4 linked regions of the Homo sapiens genome follow. The protein of the gene in region 2 interacts with the protein of the main gene of each other region in a biochemical or structural test. Each region holds a gene or a part of one and is shown on either strand. Other genes may lie near its edges.

The links. The genes of interacting proteins can lie anywhere in the genome.
Region 1: the proteins of PDZK1 (region 2) and GUCY1A2 interact in a test that uses a peptide from one of them, tested with the Homo sapiens proteins (one large-scale study listed by IntAct).
Region 3: the proteins of PDZK1 (region 2) and REELD1 interact in a test that uses a peptide from one of them, tested with the Homo sapiens proteins (one large-scale study listed by IntAct).
Region 4: the proteins of PDZK1 (region 2) and KIRREL2 interact in a test that uses a peptide from one of them, tested with the Homo sapiens proteins (one large-scale study listed by IntAct).

What each region holds. Positions count from the first base shown.
Region 1 is NC_000011.10:106,937,805-106,941,976, forward strand, and holds part of GUCY1A2 (guanylate cyclase soluble subunit alpha-2), read right to left. Parts: intron 2,375-4,172; coding exon 1,656-2,374; intron 1-1,655. UniProt on the Homo sapiens protein: Has guanylyl cyclase on binding to the beta-1 subunit. Isoform 2 acts as a negative regulator of guanylyl cyclase activity as it forms non-functional heterodimers with the beta subunits.
Region 2 is NC_000001.11:145,682,654-145,687,497, forward strand, and holds part of PDZK1 (Na(+)/H(+) exchange regulatory cofactor NHE-RF3), read right to left. Parts: intron 4,074-4,844; coding exon 3,824-4,073; intron 1-3,823. UniProt on the Homo sapiens protein: A scaffold protein that connects plasma membrane proteins and regulatory components, regulating their surface expression in epithelial cells apical domains.
Region 3 is NC_000004.12:146,228,038-146,232,209, reverse strand, and holds part of REELD1 (reelin domain-containing protein 1 precursor), read right to left. Parts: intron 4,001-4,172; coding exon 3,688-4,000; intron 3,186-3,687; coding exon 3,122-3,185; intron 2,306-3,121; coding exon 1,697-2,305; 3' UTR 1-1,696.
Region 4 is NC_000019.10:35,855,598-35,860,382, reverse strand, and holds the start of KIRREL2 (kin of IRRE-like protein 2 isoform c precursor), read right to left. Parts: upstream 3,473-4,785; 5' UTR 3,264-3,472; coding exon 3,203-3,263; intron 3,039-3,202; coding exon 2,889-3,038; intron 1,976-2,888; coding exon 1,826-1,975; intron 1,680-1,825; coding exon 1,519-1,679; intron 903-1,518; coding exon 752-902; intron 87-751; coding exon 1-86. UniProt on the Homo sapiens protein: May regulate basal insulin secretion.

The sequences.
Region 1 (4,172 bases), on a different chromosome or scaffold from region 2:
ATGTGCCAAACTGGAATCCAGGTCTATCCTTAGATATTTTCAAATCACTGAACTTGTATGATAAAAACATTATTAATTTCCTAAACCACCTGATTTCGTCATATTGAATAAATGTGCATCTTTCTATCATTCTCAAATAATTTTTTTTTTGAGACAGAGTCTCACTCTTGTCACCCAGGCTGGAGTGCAGTGGCATGATCTCAGCTCACTGCAGCCTCTGCCTCCTGGGTTCAAGCGATTCTCCTGTCTCAGCCTCCTGAGTAGCTGGGATTACAGGCACCCGCCACCATGCCCAGCTCGTTTTTTTGTGTTTTTGGTAGAGATGGGGTTTCATCATGTTGGCCAGGCTGGTCTCAAACTCCTGACCTCAGGTGATCGATCTGCCCACCTCGGCCTCCCAAAGTGTTGGGATTACAGGTGTGAGCCACCACACCCAGCCATCTTTCTCGAATATTTTTTTTAAAAAACTTTCCATTGAACTTCAAAATTATAAAAATCATCAATCATGAAACTAATGCTGTATAAAATCCTCAAAAACAAGTTAAGCGCTGCTTTCAGAGGGCTATTTCCTCATTTATTTATTATTATTCCAGAATATGTATATTTTCACTGAGTCTTTAATTACTTCTACAACTCTTCTTTCCTTTAGCCCAGAGCAACCTGTCATTTCTAATAGCTAATAGCTTCCCTCAAATGCTTGGAAACAGGCTAAATAGCCTAAAAGAACTTTATTTACCCTAGTACAAAATGTTGAAAAGACACTCTACTGGAAACTGAATGGAACTATACAAATTTCTGTCCTGGAAATTAATGTTGTTTTTCCGTTTAATCACTGAAAGCATATTACTAAACATAAAAAATCATGGTTTATTTTTCTTTACATTTTATTATCTATTTTAATGTTGACTTTTTAAAATATTTTACCTGAGGGACAAAATGTTCATTTAAACCCAAATATTTTAAGATTTATTTCTGGTGTCTTTTCATCAATTATTTATAATTTATAATCCAGATTTCCCAAAGGGGATTCAAAGAAATCCACAAAAAATTTCCTAGTCTTCACTTTATTCTCTCAACTAGAGATCATGTTCTAAAGCAATGAATCTCTATTTTAATACTAAAATTTAAACAGAAGTCTCGAGATAGTCAATTCTCAGCTTTTGGGGAATACATTATTCTGCATATTAAGACAAAAATAGGATGTAAACCAGATGTTCCCAGATTATGAAATTTAGAAAAGAACATATTCAAAGTGAAGGTAACTTTTAGCATATGTATTTAAAGATATTGCAGTCACGCCCCACAATATTGAAATGCTATATTTCTCATAGTTTGACTACATTCAGTGGAAATATTCATGTGTTTATATTATCAGGTTTTTAGTGAGTTCTATCATTTTTGTAATTGCTATAGCTAGTATTAATAAATGTCTTCTTTTTATATGCTGAAATAAATTAATGGAGGAGGCAGACACTATGCAAAATGGCTGGGAATGAGGCCAAATCTTTTTACATACATCCAGGGACCAGTAATCTTCTAAATGGCACTTTAAGCTCTCTTGCCTAAATAATTACAAGTACAGCCACCATGTAATTTACTGAAATAATTATCCACTCTTCTAGTTCCCATCACCATCTCAAGTCCATAGCACTTACCTTGTCTTTATTTTCAGAGCCAGAAGCCTCAGGCTTGGTTCTAATCACAAACGGGGTAGACAGTCGCAGCAGGACCCTTTCAAAGGTGGCATTAACCTTTGGAGATACAATCTCGAAGCAGTCCTCAAACTTGAGCACTTTGTGAGTGTCACATCGAAGCTGCTTCCTTAGACCTTCCCCCAACTGAAGGACTGACATGCTGGGATCAAACATCAAGTGGAAAGGGAAGGCTCTACAGAAGGTGTTGATGCTAATTCTGAGGTCCGCAGGAACTTGGGAGGTTCCCTGTGGAAGGTTCTTCATGATATTAGTATTTTCACATTCTTTGATAAGGAAAGTAAGACAGCTACAATTGCCTGGGTTTGAAACATCAGAGCATAGCTTCTCATTTGCAACCTGTTCCACTTCCACATCCAGCCGATAGATCTTCTTTCCTGCAGCCTTAATCATCCCCAGCATTGCAAACCCCACAATATGGTGAGGGTGGAAGTAGTGGAGCATGAGAGTACCTTCAGGGAGCTCTTTGCATAGGAAAGATGGTGACTCCAGAGTGGCCTGTTTTCCAAAAGAAGTTCTAATGTGTTCCAACAAAGCATCAAAGCCGTTAAAAAAGTCCTGCAAAGTGCCACCTACAGCTCGAAGGACTCTCTCATTCTCATGAAAGCATATATTAAAGAACTCTTCACCAAATCTTTTTTGAATTTCCTCAAACTTCAAACCTAGAGGTAAATGGGAAGCAAATGTTAGTGAAGTCTAATATAAATAATTGAATTTATAGCTTTTTAAGTGCTTATCAAAAGAGTAACTACTGAATAAAGTAACAAAGGTTATTTCTCTTAGATCCACAAATTTCCACATAGGTTAATTCACTCATCTTGAATCAGAAAATATAAATTTCAGTTCATCTTCAGGATGCCTCTAAAATGTTAATGAACATGAACCTTTTTGTTTGTTTTTAAATAGACTACATATTTTTAGACCAGTTTTAGAGTCACAGCAAAATTGAGCAGAAGGCACAGTTATTTCCCATATCTCTCTGCCCCGACACATGCACAGCCTGCCCCATTATCATATCTCCCACCAGAGTGGTACATTTATTACAATCCATGAACCTACATGATGCATTATTATCATCCAAATTCCATGGTTTACATTAAGGCTCACTCTTAATATTGTATATTCTGTGGGCTTAAACAAATGTATAATGATATGTATACACTTATCATATCACTTAGAGCATTTTCACTGCCCTAAAAATCCTGTTTATCCCTTCCTTCTCCCTAACTCCCAGAGCATCAGCTTTTTAAATGTTGCTAATCTAGCTGTTCACCTTTCAATAGCCTTGCAGTAGTTATCATAAATAATATATTTTTCTTTTTCTTAATGATTTCCCCATTCTTCACAGAATATCCAAGTTGCCTACATATTATGTCCATATTACATCCATATTATCATCTTACTTCTTATCGAAATGCATGTATTAAGTGGAAAATATAAACCAGAAAAGAAATCTATGGCACATGAATGGGGATAGGCATCAAGCTATCTGGTGGAAACAAAAGGCTTACATTAGCAATCTCAGGGAAAGACATGCAGGTCAGCTAGACCTCAGGGAAAAGGAGAAAAAACAAGAAAATAATAATGACAGAACTCTGGAATGATTTACATTCTTTCACCCACAAAAGTAAGGGCAGCCAAGCATGGAGGAGGAATCTGATGAGACAGAATTAAAGGTTATTGTTAAGTTTTCTCCATATATAATCACTCCCTGATGCCCTGGCAAAAGAGTTCCACCTTATAGTGCTGGATATTACAATGAAAAATAAATAAGTGTGCACAATGTATTCTATCGTAATAAGAAGCAGGATCACATGTGATCACAAGATCCCCCCCTTGAGGATGATATGAGGAAAAATGAGGGAATTTATGTGCCAAAGAGGACTATAACACATACAAAAGATTTTGGCCTGCATATTAAAGACAGCTTCTACCTAAACTCTATTGCTTCTCCTTTGACATTGGTTGAAATCAATACATGTAGTTTACATATTCATATTTTCTTGCCCCATTTCCATCATCTCATTTGAAGTCCTGCAAATCAGGCAGGACTGGGAAAAGAAGGTCACTTTGCTAGCGCCCCATTAGAGTGCAGAGCAATCTAGGCTGTCTACAGCTTAGCTGCTTTCCTACCTTTATCATTCCCTGAGTGTTCCTCCCAGCCAGAAGTGAGGCAAATGAACAGAGTGAATAATATTGTTTTTAAAATAGTCAAAGCACATCTAATATTCTTTAAGAGCTTACTATAGAGTCTAAAACTTCTGGTAGCCAAGAAGTCAGTTTGACAAAGAACTTCTTAAAATCAATGTGATAGGAAAATGAGTAGAAAACCTAAGTGAGAAACAGTCCCTTTATTAATAAGCATTTCATATTCATTTTGGTTTCATGGATTGGATGCTCAAGACTTGTTGAGAAAGTCACTTATTAAGATAAAAATATCACCACTCATGTCACATTGCC
Region 2 (4,844 bases):
TAAACTCCATGTGGAGACACAAGTGACTCCCTCTTGGATGGTAATCTGTGATGTTGACTTCTGATTAGCCCCAGTCCTGTGATTGCCTCCCGATTTCTACTTCATTTACTGTCCCTAGTCTAAGAACATGTCAACCTTAATGTTATCACGCAAATTATAGGCTATGATGCACTATAGCATTCTTGGCTATTGCGGAGGGCTGCCTTCGATTGTCTTGCTGGAGCACATATACCCTTTCCCTATGGTATATCAGCCTTGGGTCTGGGGAGTAACACAGAGATCTACATGTTTTGTGGCTGTCCAAGACCATGCTTCTGTTCGTAAGTTCCCCTGATAAATTCCAATGTACCAACAAACTGGATTTGCCTGCCTTGTCCTTTGGTTTCTCAGCTCCTTTGGCCTTTGAGGGACTGCTTTGCATACACCACCCTTTCACAGAACACTCCATTGCAAAGAAAAACTCGAAATCCAATGGTAAAGACTTTTCTCCCAATAATGTGAAACAAACTTCCGATTTTAGAGCTAACTCGGCCTTTGGCTTCTGATCTAAAATCACAGTTATAGGTCCTGGCACTGAACTTGACACAGCCTTTACTCAGTGGGTATTTGTTGATTTGAATAGAATTTCTGAGGTCAGCTAAATGCAAAGATGGAATCTTGGGTGGCCTTGGCCCCTTGAACCAGAAAGCGCTAAAACATGCCCACACTGCATTATTGTGTCATACGCCCTTTCTTTGCATTTGTAGAATCAGAAAGCATCTTTACCATTCTCTCCTCTTCAGTTTGTACTATTATATTAGCCATCGTATGCTGTGGAGTCATCTCACCAATGTAGGCTAACAAGGACAGGCACAGGAGGGAGGGAAGAACCCGAATGCATTTAGGTGGTGAGATTTAGGTGCTACTTATAGAAATGCTGTCAATTCTTCAAAGATATTAATAGAGCAGTTCCCCCTTAACCATGGGGGATACATTCCAAGACCCCCAGTGGAGGCCTGAAACTTTAAGATAGTATACCGAACCCTATATGTTTTTTCCTGTGCTTACATACCTACAATAGAGTTTAACTTATAAATTAGGCACAGTAAGAGATTAACAATAACTGAGCTAATCTTAGCAACCTCAGCATACAGTATTTTTTCTTTCCTTATTAAATCGAGAACTTTTCACTTAATAGAAGCACTTTACAGCCTTTTTTTTTTTTTTTTTAACAGATGGAGTCTCGCTCTGTCACCTAGGCTGGAACGCAGGGCCGCAATCTTGGCTCACAGCAACCTCTGCCTCCCCGGTTCAAGCGATTCTCCTGCCTCAGCCTCTCGAGTAGCTGGGACTACAGGCGCCTGCCACCGCGCCTGGCTAATTTTTGTATTTTTAGTAGAGATGGGGTTTCGCCATGTTGGCCAGGCTTGTCTCGAACTCCTGACCTCAGGTAATCCACTCGCCTCGCACTCTCAAAGCGCTAGGATTACAGATATGAGCCACTGTGCCCGGCCACTTTACAGCTTCTCTTTGTCATATCTGAACTGCCAGCATCACTATCCTTGCATTTTTGGCTTTTTTTTTTTTTTTTTTTGAGACGGAGTCTTGCTTTATCGCCCAGCCTGGAGTGCAGTGGCGCAATCTGAGCTCACTGCAACCTCCGCCTCCCGGGTTCACACCATTCTCCTGCCTCAGCCTCCTGAGTAGCTGGGACTACAGGCGCCCACCACCACACCCGGCTAATTTTTTGTATTTTTAGTAGAGACAGGGTTTCACCGTGTTAGCCAGGATGGTCTCGATCTCCTGACCTCATGATCTGCCCGCCTCGGCCTCCCAAAGTGCTGGGATTACAGGCGTGAGCCACTGCGCCCGGCCTGAGCTATTATTTTTTATTGATACATAACATTTGTACATATTTATAGGGTGTGTGTCATATTTTGATACCAAGAGCATATAATGAACAAATCAGGGTGTAATATTTAGGACATCCATCCTTGAACATTTATCATTTCTTTGTGTTGAGAATATTTCAAATCTTCTTACAGCTATTTTGAAATGTACAATACATTGTTGTTAACTACAGTCACCCCACTGTGCTATCAAACATTAGAACTTATTCCTTCTCTCTGTGGGTTTGTACCCATTAACCTAGCTCTCTTCATCCCCACCCTACCCCACACACATACCCTTCCCAGCTGCTGGTATCTCTCATTCTACTCTCTACCTCCATGAGATTCACCTTTTTTAGCTCCCACATATGAGAATATGTGATATTTTTCTTTCTGTGCTGGGCCATTATTAAGCAAAATAAGGATTATTTGAACACAGTACTTTAATACCGTGACAGTTGACCTGGTAACTGAGTAGTAAGTAGTAAGACTAACAGGCAGGTAAGCACATGCCACGTGGAGATGCTAGACAAACAGAGGATTCATGTCCAAGACGGGGCAGGACAGCACAAGATTTCATTACACTACTCATAATGGTTCACAATGCAAAAATTATGTATGGAATTTTCCATTTAATATTTTCAGACCACAGTTGCCTGCAGGTAAGGTAACTGAAACTATGGAAAGCCAAACAGGATAAGGGGGGACTCTTGTATGTCAACCTAGGCAAGGGATCGCTTGCTAATGACTACATAAATCACTTGTAAGGAATGACAATAACTTAAACTCTGCTTCCTTAAACACTCAGCATTTCTCCTGCTACCTTGTTATATATTTGTCATGAAGAGACCATTTTCCTCATAAAGCTAACCTAAACCATTCACCATGTGCATTAGCACATGAGCCAGATGAGTAGAATCTGAATTATGATTTTCTTTTTTTTACCACTTTACTGATAATAGGCTTCTAAGACGTGCCAAGCTTCCTTTGACTATACACACCACTGTGTTTAATAACTGACAGACCTGAGAAATACCCCTTATCGTGAGTTTACATCTCTTGGTACAGGTTAAATAAGCCTTAGAAACTATTTTAAATTTACCACTGGTCTGCTGCTGTATCACTTGCCAAATCATGACCTACCACCAGTGCTTCTCCAGCCCCAGAAAGAACATAGGCAGAGGCAGTGTTCAAGAAGGAATTGACCAGCTAACACAGCTCCTCTGGTTCCAACCAATACCCCAGAGCCACGGTCAACTGAACACAGGTTAGTCTGCACCTCTGAAATTCTAGAAATAGAACTTCTGGTGCTTCCTGATGGTCAGGGTTTCTCAAATCACTATGTACCTCTTAGCCAGAGCTCAAAGATGCGCCTCAGAACAGGTGGGGCTGAGCCGCAGCTGAGGGTACTATCAAAATGTTACAGGAGGGTGGAAATTTTTGCGGTATTCTCAGCAAAGGTAACAGTGCCTGGCACATCAGCAGGTGCTCAAGAATTTGTTGAATAAATGAATGACTATCTGGGCACTCAGATAAAAAAAAGATACCAATCTTACTCAAAAATAGCTATTATGAAGAATCTCATTTTTCTTGCCTTTTATTCCTTATTCTGCCCTTCATTTTCACCCTAAGAGGGCTAGAAGCATCAACCCTCTGGCCCCCTGACCTCAAAGAGTCCTCAAGTGCCAGCCTGACAAACACTCAGGGACAGGAGTACCCAGTGCCCCCCACCCCCACTGCTGTCCAGTGTCCCTCCCCCATTGCACAACTGTGCAAGGCAAGGGAAAGGGCAGGGAGGGAGTGAGAGACGGAGGGAGGCAAGCTGTTGCAAGCTATCTATAGCAACTGAAAAGTCAGTCAAAGAAGAAAAGTCATTAACCAGTAGCATCTTTGTTCTGGAAGCCTGTTGTCTGTGCCCTGCCCCTGCCTCCCCCTGCTCCCCAAAAAATTCTCACCTTGGACAGTTTTCAGAGAGAAGCCATAGCTGCCTCCTTCCTTCACGAGATAGCAGAGCCGGGGCTGGGTCCAAGTTTGCACACCTCCATTCATCACAGGGGAAAGTATATTATCACTCAAACCTTGCTCCTTCTGACTTTGACCCAACTCTTTCAAGTCCACCCGTGTTTTCACTGCTTTCTCATAGGAATCCCCATCCAGAACTAGTAAAGTCACTGAATTCCCACTCTTTCTGACCAGATCCACAACCTAGGAGGGAAGAAGAAAAAGGTAACTTTAATAACCCTCTGCCAACTGCCAGAGGGAAATGCTGACCATCTGGCTCAATATCTGGCCCTGGAGATGCTGCTAGTTGACCCTTGACACCCAAGTAGAAGCAGGTAGTTCCTCAGCCACCTCCATCCCTGCCCTCCCGAGATCCAGGTGCAGATTAGGCTGAGCTTCTGGCACTGCTGGAATATAGAGTGTGGTTCAACCCCAGCCCAGAGGGTTCTTACAAGACTGGTCCTTTCTAGAGAGGAGCGCTGCCCTAGATTGTAACCATTCCTCCCGTGTGCATGGGGACAGCACAGTGTAAGGAAAAGACCATGCTTTTGGAGTCAGGCAGAATAAGGTAAGGCCAGACTCTCCCATATATCCTCAGCAGGAACATGTTAGCAAGCTAAGATATCTGTACTTAGCTTCCTAATCTGTGAAATTGTAACATATACCTTATGAGGTCATGATGAGGACTTAACAAGATAATGAATATAAAATTGCTGGCCGAGCGTGGTGGCTCATGCCTGTAATCACTGCACTTTGGGAGGCCGAAGCGGGCGGATCACGAGGTCAGGAGATCGAGACCATCCTGGCTAACACGGTGAAACCCCATCTCTACTAAAAATACAAAAAAAAAAAAAAAGCTGGGTGTGGTGGCGGGTGCCTATAGTCCCAGCTACTTGGGAGGCTGAGGCAGGAGAATGGCATGAACCCGGGAGGTAGAGCTTGCAGTGAACCGAGATCGCACCACTGCACTCTAGC
Region 3 (4,172 bases), on a different chromosome or scaffold from region 2:
AATAGACAAGCAAAACAGTCTGTTTACATAGGAAAATTCTCTCTTAGACAGAAAAGATCTAAAAAAGTTTGCATACATGGTGCATCTGGCTCTGATGTGATGTGGCCAGATGAAAGCTCTCCACTAATGGGGTCCCTTGTTTGCTTCTTGGGGAGAACGTCTTTTAGAGGGCTAGACATACAGAAGGGATATCTGTGGCCTTATTAGACTACAGTACTTTTGTTTCTTTCCACAGTATTCCTAGAACACTTTCATTTGTGAATGCACAAATTACCTAGGTCTCCATGCATCTAATGGCTGAAGCCAGGGAACAGAGCTACCTAGCCCAGAATCCAGGAGGAGAGAGTCTTGGAATTGATGACCAATGAGCTAAAGCGAGGTGTGGAAAAGGCAGGAGCTGTCTCTTTCCTGAACACTCAATTTTTAAAAATTGTTAAATTGAGGTATAAGGAAAGCCTCATTCTCCTTGGAAAGCTACTGAACTTATTCCTCATTAAATTTTTGTGAGAGTTAAATGTGAAGATATACGCAAACTACTTAGCACAGTTCCCGTATGAATTAGGTGTTCAATAAACAAATATCCTTTCCGAATTTGTAGTGATTTTTGTTTCTGCATTAAAATGATGACTCTATAATAGGTTTCACTCTGAAAAGGCAGCTAATTCCTATGTGCTATATTAGGTGAGCATATTTAAGAGTTATATTCAGATCTGTTGTTTTGACCTCAGATAGTATCTGTGGAGCCACTGTTAAATCAAAGCAATCTTCATAAGGTTATGAGATCAGGTAGATGACCTTCATCCATGAAGCTTTCTTCCTGATATTCCCTGAAAAGACAAGTAAAGACTGTTCTTCAAACTATGCTGGTATAATAATGTTTTTCAGCCTGACCTTTGGCAAAAGGCACTATGTCTGCTAGCTGTTGGGATACACGAATGTTTCCATCAAGTGTAAATGGATGGGAGGTCTCAGATCCATTTACACCTGATGAAAAGGCTTTCTTACCCCACTCTGGTGTTTACGGCCTTGTGTTGCATGTATATGTTTTCCTGAAGATGTGTTCAATCAAGCTCTCAAAAACTTTCCTGACTTTGGATCAATTTCCATGGCGGATTTGCCAGGCTGCTGAGTTGCCCAGAAGACCAAATACCCTTGCATTCACCTAGTCATCCAAATCAGAACTCTAGCAAGTTGTTGAATTCAGTTTTGAAAAGAAAACTTCTTTGGGGGTGGTTTAGGAAGGCAAAGTGAGAGCTGCAGTTCTTTTTCTTGCAGGAGACACAACCCAACATTACTTTTTTTCCCCAAAGAGTTAGAAGAGATGAGACACTAAGGAGGGACAGTATTTTTATTTCTATGGCTTCCTTACCACAACAGAGGAAGCTTAGTGGCCACAGGGGTCTAGTTAATGAGCGGGTTATACAATATTCATTGTGTTGAGTTTAAGTCTTCAAACAGAACGTCTAATTGCAAAAAGAAAGAAGGAAGCCCAATTACAGATGTTAAGACAACAAAGCTCAGGAATAACTCCCTCTGTTGATGAAAGTGTCCTCTCCCGGGTTCCTCCACTAACTGCACATTGACAGAGGCACAATGAGTCCCTGTCTTCATCAGTTATTCTCATTATCTCTGCTCTGTCTGGGACACTCTCCAGGGCCCAAGGAGGGCCACTGAGAGGTCTGGGGTGACAGTCTTCTCAGAGGACTGTTTTCTTGCTACCCACAGAAGGAGTGATCCAGTTGTACTCTGCTTGAACCAAAACAAAACTGTTCTCCCCAATCTTCCTGACGTGCACAGTCTCACCACTGTTGCTCCTGGCAACAGCATCCGAAGCGGGCTCACTGAAAGACACTTCTGTCTGCTGGTGGCAATACTGGGTGTGCAGGTAGCGAAGGCCAGCGGCCAGGGCCATGCCCAGGGTGGCTGACAGGCAAAGCAGAATTCCCAGCTGAGGAGTTCTGAGCTGGATACCCAGAGGGGCCTGGGCTCCCTCTAGCCCAATGTCAGGCCGTGGGTTGGTCTGCCGAGGGTATCCCACTCCACCCTCTCCATTTCCCTTCCCTGCTCTGAGCTCCTTGTGCTTTGACTGAGGTAAGAAGCTGGCAGAGGCCCTGGATGCCTCTGACTGGTCACCAGCAGCAGGTAGCCCAGAAGTGCCAGAGGTCTGGAGGACAGGGATTGGGTTGCTTGCCCTGACCCCATTCCCTGTGAAAGTTTCAGAGGACCAGAGGCACTGGGGATAGGTAAGCTGGACGGTGGACAGAGGAGGCTGTGTCACGGTCCTGTTAGAGGCCTTCGTCTTGTCCTAGAAAAACAAAGGGAAAAAAGAGTCAAAGGTACTGGTCTTCCTCCTAAGCTGCCACTGAACTTTGTAACTAACTGGGGTTCCTTAAAGACTCCCAGGAGGCAGCTAAAAACCCAGTCTCTTTCTTGCTACTAAAGGAGCTCAAAGTAAAATGCCCAACTAGATACAAATGCACTTGTTATTGATGGGGATGGGGTAGCTAATGGAAACCCCACAGAGAACAAGGAAGCCAGTTACAAGAATAAGCTTAGGGTCCTTTAAGTGGCTTCCAAACCAAAATATCAATGGGTGATTGCATCATCTTCTATGGCTGAGAGATTTGAGTGTGTCTTCTTATGATAGGACCCATGCAAGAGGGACCATTTAACCTCACTGTAGGTTCTGAGAAATGTAAGTAAGAACATTACACCTTGTTTTATTTTGTGTTCCTTCTAAGACTTCAAAGGAATAGTAAATCAGTGGGCATTTATATTTTATATTGACCATTGATCTAACTTCTGGGACCATACATGGCATTTTGAGGTCAATGTTATGAAGGAGGGATAGAGGAGGAGAGAAGAGAGTAATTATTAACTGTGGCTAAGTGAGAAGACAAGTCACTAAAACATCAATTTCTACAATTGCCGATCACTTCAGAGACACTGCATATAATGGAAAGGTATTGATTAGTAGAAAGACACTGTGTGTATATTGTACTTTGCCTTCTTCTCTCTAACTTTGGCTACTAGTCTAATAGCTCTGATTTCCCAGCCTGAAACTGACCATTCTAGGATCAAAATACCAGTCACAAGCCCACTTCACAGTTCAGGTTCTTACCTGTTCACCCCCATCTGAGGACAGGCAAGTTTCCAGTGAATCAAAGCTGGGATCATCCTGAGTTCTAAAGGGAAGAATGGAAGGGCTGAAAACAGGTCATTAAGTTTTGGACCAAAAAGCAATGTTTCCTACCACAGTTGTGTATGCAGATGGCAACAGATTCACTTGAAAAACTTCTGATTTTGGAGTCAGGAACCATAGAGAAGAGGAAGGGGAGAGATGAGTGAGAATGGTGGCAAAGAACTCACCAAATGCTGTCGCTTATTATTTTATATAAAATATACATTTCTATGTTGTTATTATAAATATATTTAAAATATAAAAAGTCACTTTTAAAGTTTTACTTATAACAGCACCTCAGAGATCTCACCCCATCCAAGAAAATAATTTCCCTGGGTAATTAACATACCCAGTCCTTCTGACAAGTAGCCCTGCTACATCCTGGGTTTTTCACACACTTAAGAAAAAATATGGCTGAGATCTTTTTTGTCAGACTCCACATGATGCACTCCAGTGTTCATCCTAGTCCCATCACCTGTCCTGAATGGCCCACCCATCACCCTTACCTGTGATGGGTGCTAAGGCTGGAAGCAAAGCTCTCTGAGGAGACTCTCTTGAGGGCCACGAGCCTCTCCAGCCTGTGGACCTCCAGGGACGGCTCTAGGGTGGGATTGCTGTCCCCGCTGGGTTGCTGGTTGATGCTGCCTTCAGTGGCTGTGTGTGAAGATGGTTGGGACAGAGTCTCTGCATCCCCAGGAAACTTTGTCACCCAAATACTGGCAGGAACAGGATCTAGGTTGTCCTCCTCTGCAGCTCCAGGAAGGGCAACAGCAAAGACATGTGTGTGCTGCTGTGGAAGAGTGATGGGGGTCCTGGGAGCTAAGCAGAGGTCCAAAGACAGCGCAGAGTGAGTGAGAGCATTTTCCCCGCATCGATTGTTACAAACAGCTATGATCAGGGGTAAACAGCAGTGACTCTAATATGCCTCAAGGAGAGACCATTAAGTGTGAGGCACTTAAAAGTGTCAGCATAAAGATGACCTGCCTGATCA
Region 4 (4,785 bases), on a different chromosome or scaffold from region 2:
CTGGGCTGTGGCCTGGCACAGGAAAATGACCTTCTCTCCCTCCTGCACAGTGTGTGGCGAAGCAGACAGAGTCACCTCTGGGGGGTCTGTGAGGGTGGGACAATGGTCAGATGGGCAAGGACCAGGAACACCTCCGTCACTGGCCTAGGTGTCCAGTCCCTGGTTCCTCCATCCCAGGAGTCTGGGCCCCTAATCCCCTTCTCCCTTTGAGCCAGGAGTCTGGGCTTTCAGTTCCCAATTTCCCCAGTTACCTCAATGTGCCAGCCTTCTGCCCTCTCCTAGTCTCCCCGATGTGAGAGTCAAGGCCCAGCTTTCTCTTTCCCCAGGGACCCCAGCTGTCTGTCCTCTCCTGCTCGGAGTCTCACTCTGCTGCTGAGTGGCATGATCTCGGCTCACCGCAACATCTGCCTCCCGGGTACAAGTGATTCTCCTGCCTCAGCCTCCCAGGTAGCTGGAATTACAAGTGTGTGCTACCACGCCCGGCAAATTTTTGTATTTTTAGTAGAGACGGGGTTTCGACATGTTAGCCAGACTGGTCTCGAACTCCTGATCTTAGATGATCCGCCTGCCTCGACCTCCCAAAGTTCTGTGAGTACAGGCGTGAGCTACCATACCCAGCCCTCTCCTGCTATCTTAGATCCAGGAGTCCAGGCTCCAGTTTCCTCATTCCCCAAGGGCCACAGTCCCCTCCTTCCTCATACCCAGGAGTCAGGGCCCCACACCCCTCTTTCCCAGGGCCAGCTGCACTCACACTGCAGGCTCAGTGTGATAGCTGTGTCTCTTCCTGTGGGCAGGGCCTGGCTCCGGGCCCGGCAGACAAAGGTGGCTCCATCATCATGGCTGAAAGGGGTCAGGGTTAAGGTGCTCTCCACTGACCCAGGGGTCCCTTCCTTCAGCAGGGTCTGGAGGGAAGGATAAGAATAATAATGCCATCTACCCATCAGGGGTGTCCAATCTTTTGGCTTTCCTGGGCCACATTGGAAGAAGAATTGTCTTAGGCCACACATACTAACACTAATGATAGCTGATGAGCTAAAAAATTACAAAAAAGTCTCATAATGTTTTAAGAAAGTTTATGAATTTGTGGTGGGCCACATTCAAAGCCATCCTGGGCTGCATGCAGCCCATGGGCCGCAGGTTGGACAAGCTTGCCTTACTTATATAGTGCTCACTATGTATTGGTCACTCTTCTGGGCATTTATAGGTATTTATTTATTTAATTCTCACAATACCCTATGACATGCATGCTACTATTATCCTGATTGTATAGATAAGGCAACTGAGGCACAGAGAGGTTAACTAACTTACTCAAGATCAATCAACTAGCAAGTGGCTGAGACATAATTTGAACCCAGGTAGTCTGGCCCTAGAATCTTTACCCTGCATCATATTTCAAGAGTCCAAACCCATGAACCTCTGCCCTCCCATGTCTTCTTCTCTTCTGGATGAGCCTGTGGTCAGAGTGTAACCCAAGTTTCCCTCAATGGGCAAAGGCTAGCACAGGAATTTGGACCTGACCTGATGGAAGGTGGCTCCATCCAACAGGACCCCATCTCGGAACCACAGCAATTCAGGGGTAGGGCGGGCATCCCCACGGCTCCGACATGTCAGGTTCGCAGGAACTCCAGCAACCAGAGACACAGAGGGGCCGCCCAGCACCTGGGGGGCTTCTGGGGGGACTGCAAGGTGGATTTGGGGTCAGAGATGGATCCTGATCTTCTCAGCTCCAATTGACCATGCCCCTGGGCTCCCTGGGCTCTGCTACTCACAGCTAGTACGGGCTGCCCTCTTGGGCTCCCAGGGGACAAGTGGGCGAGGTCCTTACCCAGCACGTGCAGTTGGGCTGGTCTGGAGCGGAGGCCTGCTTGTGTAGCCTGACATTCATATGATGCTTCATCCTCTAGCTCCACGGGCCTAATGTGGAGGTCATGCTGGCCATTGGCTGCATTCCCTGATATCCAGTACCGGGACCACCCTGGAGTCAGGGAGAAGGCAGTCAGCACACCATGGTTCTGAAATCCTGGCCTCAGGCCTCCATCCCCAGACATCCTCCACCAGAAAACTGGCCCACACATTTGGTGGTAAGACACTATTAAAAAGTGTGTACTGGGCCCAGAGAGACTCTAACTCCCTCCCAACCCAGAGTCACTGCAAACTTAGGGGTAATAAAGTCAGGAAGGAAAGCAAGAAAATGATTGCCATAAAAATTAGGTTAGATACTACTTCTGGAGTGAGGGGGAGGGGGCTATGATAGGGGAAAGGAACACGGGGTCTTCTGGGGAGCTAGCAATGGACTTGGGTATTGGCTGTGTGTGTCTATTTTATTTGGTAAATCTTCCATTTATATTTACTGTACTTTTTTGCATTTATGTTCTCTTTTTTTTTTTTTTTTGAGACAGGGTCTCACCATTGCCTGAAGTGCAGTGGCTTGATCATGGCTCACTGCAGCCTTGAACTCCTAGGCTCAAGCAATCCTACCACCTAAGCCTCCTGAGTAACTGGGACTATAGATGCACACCACCATACCCGGCTAATTTGTTTAAAATATATATATACATTTGTGTAGAGATAAGGTCTTGTTATGTTGCCCAGGCTGGTCTCAAACTCCTGGTTTCAAGCGATCCTCTGGCCTCAACCTCCCAAAGCGTTGGGATTACAGGCGTGAGCCACTGCACCTGGCCTATGTACTATTTTGCAATAACATAATAATTCCCAAACTCCGTGGGTCACCCCCAAAGAAGCAGCTCAAAAATCAGGACTCCTAAATGTTTACCCGAGCCCATCAATTTCCCAAACTTGAAAATGTCAAAATAGAAACTGCAGGTACAGCCGAGCCCAGCAACTCTCCCCCTAGCCAGCCCGTCCCAGCGTGGAGAGAACACTCTTACCTGGTAGGTCCCTTTGGCCCCCTAGGGCCAGCCCACTCTTAGTCCACTGAACTAGCCCCCAGTAGGCGCCCAGAGCACACGGCAGCCGGGCTTCCTCCCCCAGCAGCACCACCAGGTCCTCTGGCTGTTGCAGGAAATGGGGCGACGGGCCTAGGAGAGTTCGGGGCAGCAGGGCTGAGCTTAGCACCTTCAGGGGCCTCCTCATTCAGGACCCAGGAGTCCCAGCCCCCAGCTCCCTTCTCGCTAGTGAAGAGGCAGCCCGCAAGCAACTCCCCACCCCCACCCCATATTCCTCCGCTCCCCTCGTGCGGTACCTGCTCTCCCTCTGAAGCAGAAGAGGAGGACGAGGAGGGCGGGGACCCGCATCCTGAGCATTCGTCCCCCAAGGTTCACGAGATTTGCCGTCGCACTGGCCTTCCCGTCAACTTCTTCCTCTCAAGCACGCCTCCTGTCACCCTGGCCCGGAGCCCCCTTCACGCTCGACTCTTCGCCCAGCCTAGTCTCTGGCCTGGAGTCCTCCAAGTCTGCTCATCCGCAGCCTCTGACGCTCTGAAACGCCTGCCAGTTCCGCGGCCTGGGTCTCTGGGAGACCCCAAGAGGGCCCGATCCCGCTCGCCCCGCCCGGGTCCGCCCCCCGGGAGCTCCGCCCTCTTCCCGTTGAGAAACTCCCGCGGCTGAGACGCGGATGAATGGGGGACGCAGGGCGGGATCCCCCGGCGGGTGGGCGCCCCCAGCTCAATTGGGGTCTGGGAGCCGGAACACCTGGGTTCGAGGAGGGAGGGGGTCCCGGCTGGGTTGGACACCTGCGCCCTGCCGGGGTTGAGGGGCAGGCAAGGGGTGAGGAGGAGGGAAGGGAGAGAGTGGAAGAAACTTGCTCAGCCCAGGTCCTAGAGGGACTGCGCTCAGTGGAAACTGAGCTATAAATGGGAGCTCCTGGGGCCTCGCCAGTTTCCGCGCCCTGGGGGATGCGGGGTCCGGGGCTCCCCCGGGCCTGCGTGTCGGGAAGAGGGCACACCGATACCTGGGGGACAGTTGGGACCCCTACCTCGACTCCCCCAGCCTCAAAACCCCTCCTCAAAATATCCCTCTGTTCCCTTGTTATTGCTGCAAACTACAGCACGTCCTAAGACCCAGGAATCCAGGCCCTCGGCCCCTCCTTTCCCAGGACCCCGCAGTCCCAGCCCAACCCCTCTCCCCACTCGGCCGGCCGGGCCCCTCGGCCTGGTTGCCCGGCGACGGCTGGGAGGCGGCGGTGCCGGGCCGGGGCAGGCAGGGAGGCTGGGAACCGCGCAGCTTGTCCTGACGGCTCCATGCAGCCCAGCTGGGGCGTTCCCACGCTGCGCAGCTGGCCGAGCAGGTGGGAGGGACCCCGAGCAGCCTGAAGGAGGGCTGGGGGGCTGGGACCCTGATCTGACATTCCTGGACCTGTAAGAACTGGAGGGTCCACATTCAGATTCTCCACTGTTCTTAGGCTCAGACTCCGTGTCCCTAAATGGGGGAGTGGGGTTGGGAGTGGGGGTTGGACTTACAGGGTTATAAGGGACTGGTGGTTCAGGCCTTTGCTGGCTGAGACGCTGATGGCCTGATCTCCCGGTTCCTTGAGAGGCTGGAGACTCAAGGTGCACTCAAGTGCATGGTGCACTTGGAAGAGGGTGACAGGGGTCAGAATATCTGGTCTTAAGTCTTAAGAGTCGGTGGATCTATCTGCCAATCTCTCCCCACCCCCACACAGGCCCAGGAGGATTTGGAAATCAGACCGTGAACATCTGTCCTAAGTCCTGTGTGTATGTGTGTGTGTGTGTGTGTGTGTGTGTGTGTGTGTGTGTGTGTGTGTGTGTATGGGGAGGTGCGGGGGTGGGTAGTGTGGCCAGGAGGATCAGAGGCCCAAATTCCCGAG